2 linked regions of the Homo sapiens genome follow. The protein of the gene in region 1 interacts with the protein of each later gene in a pairwise test. Each region holds a gene or a part of one and is shown on either strand. Other genes may lie near its edges.

The links.
Region 2: the proteins of SPG7 (region 1) and SPATS1 interact in a two-hybrid assay, tested with the Homo sapiens proteins (one large-scale study listed by BioGRID and IntAct).

Annotation. Positions count from the first base shown.
Region 1 is NC_000016.10:89,555,674-89,558,428, reverse strand, and holds the end of SPG7 (mitochondrial inner membrane m-AAA protease component paraplegin isoform 1 precursor), read right to left. Parts: intron 2,552-2,755; coding exon of another isoform or gene 2,344-2,551; intron 1,543-2,343; coding exon 1,336-1,542; 3' UTR 663-1,335; downstream 1-662. UniProt on the Homo sapiens protein: Catalytic component of the m-AAA protease, a protease that plays a key role in proteostasis of inner mitochondrial membrane proteins, and which is essential for axonal and neuron development.
Region 2 is NC_000006.12:44,362,934-44,366,756, forward strand, and holds part of SPATS1 (spermatogenesis-associated serine-rich protein 1), read left to right. Parts: intron 1-3,823.

The sequences.
Region 1 (2,755 bases):
AATTCGAGTCTAGCCCTGTCTCTACAAAAAGTACAAAAATTAGTCGGGCATAATGGTGCGTGCCTGCGGTCCCAGCTACTTGGGAGGCTGAGTCAGGAGGATTGCTTGAGCCCAGAAGATCGAGGCTGCAGTGAGCCGAGATGGCGCCACTGCACTCTAGCCTGGGCGACAGAGCAAGACTCTGCCAAAAACCAACACAACAGCAAAAAAAAAACAATTACCGAGGACACTACCCTTGGCTACACCAGCTAAAACCCTCCCATCGATGTGCTGGTCTTTGGATTTGGAGAACTGGGGCAAAGGTCAAGGCATCTCTCAGAGATGCCACCCTCGGGTGTGTGACTGCACCTGTGGCTGCCTCCTTACTGCTCCGCCAGCGTTTCAGTGTTGCAGCAACAAGAGGACAATCCACTCACGTCACTGCACCACAGGGAGGGCAGAAGCAAGGGGGCCGGAGTGGGAGCCGCATGCCCCGGAACTCAGGGCCAGGGTGTCCTGGGTCGTCTTCTATCCCTACGGGGTCCAGGCCCCAGATTCCTACAGAAGGAGTTTTTCACTTAGTCCCTGCATTACTCAAATTATAAACTGAAACCACAAGACCCTGTGATCCAGGGCAAGCCCACCAGCTCCTCTGCATTAGAGCTGGCCAGACAATGCAAATGTAGATTTTCCAACTACACAGTTTATTAGTAAAGTATCTCAACAATTCTCAGAGCAGTAAAAACCAAGGCATCCCCAACACTGCATGCGTGACTAGACCAGCAAGAAGTCCTCAACTTGCACCAGTCCACATGGCAGCAGGGGGCAGTGGTGAGTCCTCCGGAGCCCAGTGCCTGGGCCTGACTGGCCCCATTGATGAGTGAGCTGGATGACAGGGCCGCTGGAGATAGGACAATCGGCTCACAGGGTCCTTTCATGTCCGATCCCCTTAGCATTCCGAGGGAGCCACAGGAACTGGGGCGGTCGTGCAAGCGTCGGCATGAACAGGGGTCTGTTTGGAGTCTGAATGCTCTGCTGCCTCTGGGTGGCCTCAGCCACACTGGGAACGACTGTCTATAACCCTGGGAACTCGAAGTGTTCCATGCTCACTCGGGAAGCACTGATAACCTTCCCCATAGGGGAAACGACTCACAAACACAGGACTCCGTCAGTAGTTTCTGCAGAGAAACTTAAAATCATGAAAAGGGTCATCAATCAACAGATCTCAGAAGTCACTGTGCAGGGACTACTGAGGGCCGCGAGAGGAAGTGCAAACCTCAGCTGAAAAGCAACTCAGGGTGGCTGAGTGAGCCCTCACTTCCCGGACCACCCGCACGTGCAGCCAACACCTCCCAACTACTTGGGCCAAGTCGGCTCTTCGCCTCCAAGTGGAGGCTGCTGGGTCTCTTCGGTCTCCTCCTCGCCCAAGTCCTGTTTCTCCCTCTGGGCGTCGATCCACCTCTGCGGTGCGATCATTTTCTTCGGCCCATGGGGCGGCGGGCCAATGAGAGCCTCAATGTCCTCATAGTTTATCACTTCCTTTTCCAGAAGGGCGTTTGCCAGCTAGAAAGAACAGGCATAGCAGTGTGTGAGTCCCCAGGGCAGACAGAGCATCTCTATGTCCTGGGGAGGTGGCAAGAGGCGTGAGGGCCTGTCTGTGTGCAGGACACCCAGGACAGGCCACTTTCCCAGGGAAGCGGAGGCACGGAGGCAGCTCCGAAAGAAGAATCACCCCCATCTCAACCTCATAAATGATTTTCCGGCGGCCAGCCTCATTAATTTTTCTACTTCTATTCAAAATCTTGGCTTATTTTTGGCAACTGCAATTTCTTTCACCAAACAAGACGTGTGTGTCTACAGGGAAGGAGATGGGTAAAATGCTGAACCCTCCTGATTGAGGAGAGCAGCACTGGGAGAAGGAATCTGAGGCGAAGTTGTGTGAGCTGGGACCTCTCAAGTTGGGGAAGTGAATTTCTGCCATTCTAGGTGGGATCCTGGAAAACACTTGAGACACCGACTGTCCTGTGCCGGTGGACCTGCCCCTGGGGTGGCCTGGCCAGACCACAGAAAACACTGCCACAGCCACATTTCACTGGTTTCTGTGAAGGCAGAACTCTTCCAGATTTTTTGTTGTTGTTGTTGTTAATTACCTGCTCCTTTCCTCACTCTTCCAGATTTTCTAAAGAAAATGGTAACCCCTGAAGCTAGGGTGATTTACCTGTGGCTGTATTGCAAGAGACAAACACTTCCTCTCTAGGGCTGGTGTGGGATTTTACTAAGTTCTGCAACCCACTGAGTGTGTGAGTAGCTGACAGTTCATACACGGGGCAGACACACCACTCCTCAGCCAGTGAGAAGCCTTGCCTGCAGCTTTGCTCCCGTTGTGGCTCCCACTGTGATGTGCCCGAGCTCTGCAGAGCTGCTTTGTCAACCGTGATGAGCATGGGTCCACAGGCAGGCCTGCTTCAGCCGGGGACGGCACCGCCCACACCTGCCCAGAGGCGGCTGCTGCTGGCTGGGGACGACAGTCTAAGGGCCCCAAACACGATCCCCACGTGACACACAGTGCTCGCTTGAAAGACACAAGGGGAGGCTGAAGAAACAACTACCTATCCACTGCCTACCCATCTGTTCACAACATGGGACAAAGAGCCGTGCACCTCTCCTGAGTTCTAAGCAGCAGTTACCAAACCCAGGGACAAAAACGTTCACTCCAGCTCTGCCCACTGTGAGAAACACATCAGACAATCGCAACTGAGGAACGTCCTACAAAACA
Region 2 (3,823 bases), on another chromosome or scaffold:
GTTCAAGCCATTCGCCTGCCTCAGCCTCCGGAGTAGATGGGATTATAGGCATGCACCACCACACCCGGTTAATTTTGTATTTTTAGTAGAGACGGATTTCTCCATGTTGGTCAGGCTGGTCTCGAACTCCGGACCTCAGGTGATTCGCCTGCCTCGGCCTCCCAAAGTGCTGGGATTACAGGCGTAAGCCACCGTGCCCAGCACTTTTTTTTTTTTTAAGACAAGGTCTTGCTCTGTGGCCCAGGCTGGAGTGCAGTGCCACCATCTTGGCTCACTGCAGTTCCGAATGCCAGCCCCCCAGCCCCAGGCTCAAGCAATCCTCTAACCTCAGCCTCTAAGTTGCTGGGACTAGAGGCATGTGCCACCATGCCCGGCTGATTTTTCTATTTTTAGTAGAGACAGGGTTTCTCCATGTTGCCCAGGCCAGTCTCAAACTCCTGGGCCCAAGCGATTAGCCGGCCTTGGCCTCTCAAAGTGCTGGTATTACAGGTGTGAGCCACTGCAGCCAGCCTACCCTGCACTCTTGAGCTGCAAGTACCTATCAAAAGTAAATGGGATTATCATAATGACCTAAATCTCAATCTTGACTTATCACTGCCCTCCTGGCTCAAAAGTAAACCACCTTATCCTGAATTTTATGTTTATGATTCTTCCCTCTCCTTTCCTTTCTTTTTCTTTCTTCTCCTTTCCTCTTCTTTTTCTTTCTTTCCTTCCTTCCTTCCCTCCTTCCCTCCTTCCTTCCTTCCCTCCTTCCCTCCTTCCTTCCTTCCCTCCTTCCTTCCTTTTTCCTTTCCTCCCTCCCTCTCTCCATCCTTTCATTTCTTCTTTCCCTTCTTCCTTTAGGGTTTTATAAATACTGAGTAAATGCAATGATATATTTATGAAACATTTGTTGACTATATAAAATGAAATATCACAAATACTTGCGTTCTTTTACTCCACTTAAGAAATAAAATTCTAACTTTATATTTGAAGGCTCCAATATCCTCTTCCCCGAATATTCCATCTTTCCTCCTCCAACTCCAGTGGTAACCCATATTTCATATTTTTTTAAAGAAAAACTTATTAGGTAAATTTTCAAACAATAGCAAAATGAAACCCGATGTACTCATCCACTTAGCTTCAATAATGATCAACACCTGGCTAACTTGTTTCATCATTACTCCTCCTCCCAGGGATTATTTCAAAGCAAATTTCAGACATCATATTATTTCATCTCTAAATATATCATATGTGCCTCTGATAGATAAGGATTATTTTATTAACATAACCACAATTCCATATCATAATATCATATTTTAAAAATTAACAGTAATTCCTTAATATAGTCAGTGTCCAAATATCCCATTGTCTCATAAATGCCACAATTTAAAAATATTTAGTTTGTTTGGATCAGGATCCAAGTAAGGCCCACAGATTGAAATTGGTTGGTATGTCTGTTAAGTTTCTTTCTCCCTCCTTTTTTCTTGCAATTTGTATGGTGAAGAAACTAGGCCTTATCCTGCAGTATTCACCATGATCAGGACTTTGCTGATTACATTGCTTGGTATCATTTAACAGGTTCCTCTTTCCTGTGTATTTCCTGTGAAGTGGTAGTTGGGTCTACAGGCTTGATTCGTTTTAGTATATGATTACTTCTTAGGTGATGTACAGTGACTTCTTTAAACATCAAACGCAATGGTCTTTTTCCATTTCTTCTCTTCCTTGATCTCACTGCAGCACTTGATACTGTCAAGCTTGACACTGGATACTTCTTCCTTTGTGAAATTCTCTCCCCACTCTTTCTTTCTTTTCTTTCTTTCTTTTTTTCTTTCTGTCTTTCTTTCTTTCTTTTTCTTTTTCTTCTTTTCTTTTCTCTTTCTTTCTTTCTTTCTTTTTTTTTTAGACAGAGTCTCGCTCTGTCACCCAGGCTGGAGTGCAGTAGCGTGACCTTGGCTCACTGCAACCTCCGCCCACTGAGTTCAAGCAATTCTCATGTCTCAGCCTCCTGGGATTACAGGCATGTGCCACCACTGCCGGCTAATTCTTGTCTTTTAGTAGAGACAGGGTTTCACCATGTTGGCCAGGCTGGTCTCCAACTCCTGACCTCAGATGATCCACCCGCCTCGGCCTCCCAAAGTGCTGGGATTACAGGTGTGAGCCACCACTCCTGGCCCCCACTCATTATTTCTTGGATGAGATGAAGTGGTAGGCTCAGGGACTGCCAACCAGCTGCCATTTTAAACTGGAATGCAACGCATTATTATATCAAAAAATCAATCAAAATATCTTTAAATAATGGTTGACTGTTATCCATCAGCCATAACCAGGATATTGGTGGAGTTCCCTAAAGGCCTAGCTGTTGCCACAGAACAAAATGCCATCTATGATTGTAGGTGGTAGGGAAATAGATCTGAAAATACAATTTTCTATTGTGTAGCTCTTCCCACAGTACAGCATATTGTATTAGTCAGAATAGGATAGATTCTGCCGCAGTAACAGTCCCTGAAATCTCTGCAGCTTAAGCACTAAAGTTTGCTCCTTTCTCTTGTAAAGTCCACTGTGGATCCAGCAGCTCTCCAGGACAGCTCCTTTCCAAGGATGCTGTCTGCTTTTATCTGTGACCTTTCCATCTCAACCTGTGGCTTCTAAGATTGCCATAGAAGGGTAAAGAGAAAATGCTGGAAGGTTTTTCACATCAGCTCCTTAAATGCTTCTTTTTAAAGTGGCACATATCATCTCTGCTCACAATCTATCAGTCAGAACATGGCTCTACCTAAACGCATCGGGGCACTGAAATGTGGGGCAGAGTAAGTTATTTGGTGAACGGTTCGCTCCCTTATATGGTTATTTGTCTCTAAATGTATGTTTCCCATTTTCTACCTCCTGAATGTCTACATCCAGGAAATTGGATGGTCTGTCTAAAAACAAACAAGCATTAGAACTGATCATGCAGTGTTATGGGTCCATCAGCTATTGATACATAGTGGCCAGCCCTTTGGGCTGATACCTGTTTTGGTGAGATATCCAGAAATTATACCAAGGCCCCATATTGTACTTAATAGCTTAAACAAACATGTTATCTCAGAAGTGTTGTTTGGGAGATTTTCCCCCTAAAAGTAACACCTTATACTGACATCACACCATTGCCTCTTTTTCTTCCTCCTGACATTATCTTGTGATATCTTTTACCATAGTCTATATATATATATATATTTTTTTTTTTTTTGAGACAGAGTTTCGCTCTTGTTGCCCAGGCTGGAGTGCAATGGTGCGATCTCGGCTCACTGCAATCTCTGCCTCCCAGGTTCAAGCGATTCTCCTGCCTCAGCCTCCTGAGTAGCTGGGATTACAGGCATGTGCCACCATGCCCAGCTAATTTTGTATTTTTAGTGGAGACGGGATTTCACCATGTTGATCAGGCTGGTCTTGAACTCCTGATGTCAGGTGATCCACCTGCCTCGGCCTCCCAAAGTGCTGGGATTACAAGCATGAGCCACTGCGCCTGGCCACCATAGTCTATTTCTAGGTGTTCTCCTTAGACCACCTATATCATAATCAACTGGAAAGTTTATAAAAATTACTGGTTCTGGGAACTATTAGAGATCTTCTGAAACAGAATTTCTTGGGTTAAAGGCTGCATTTTAAACAAGTTTCCTAGGTGATTTTCAGGTGTGCTAAAATTTTGGAACCACTGTTCTATAGTATATGGCATTTACTGCTTTGTAGTGTTACCTTCGTCTTTACATATGTCTCCCTATCTAGATAAGATTCCCTGGGGAGAAATTTATACCTCAGCTATATAGCAATCGTATCCTCCAGATTAAAAAATAATTGGGATGAG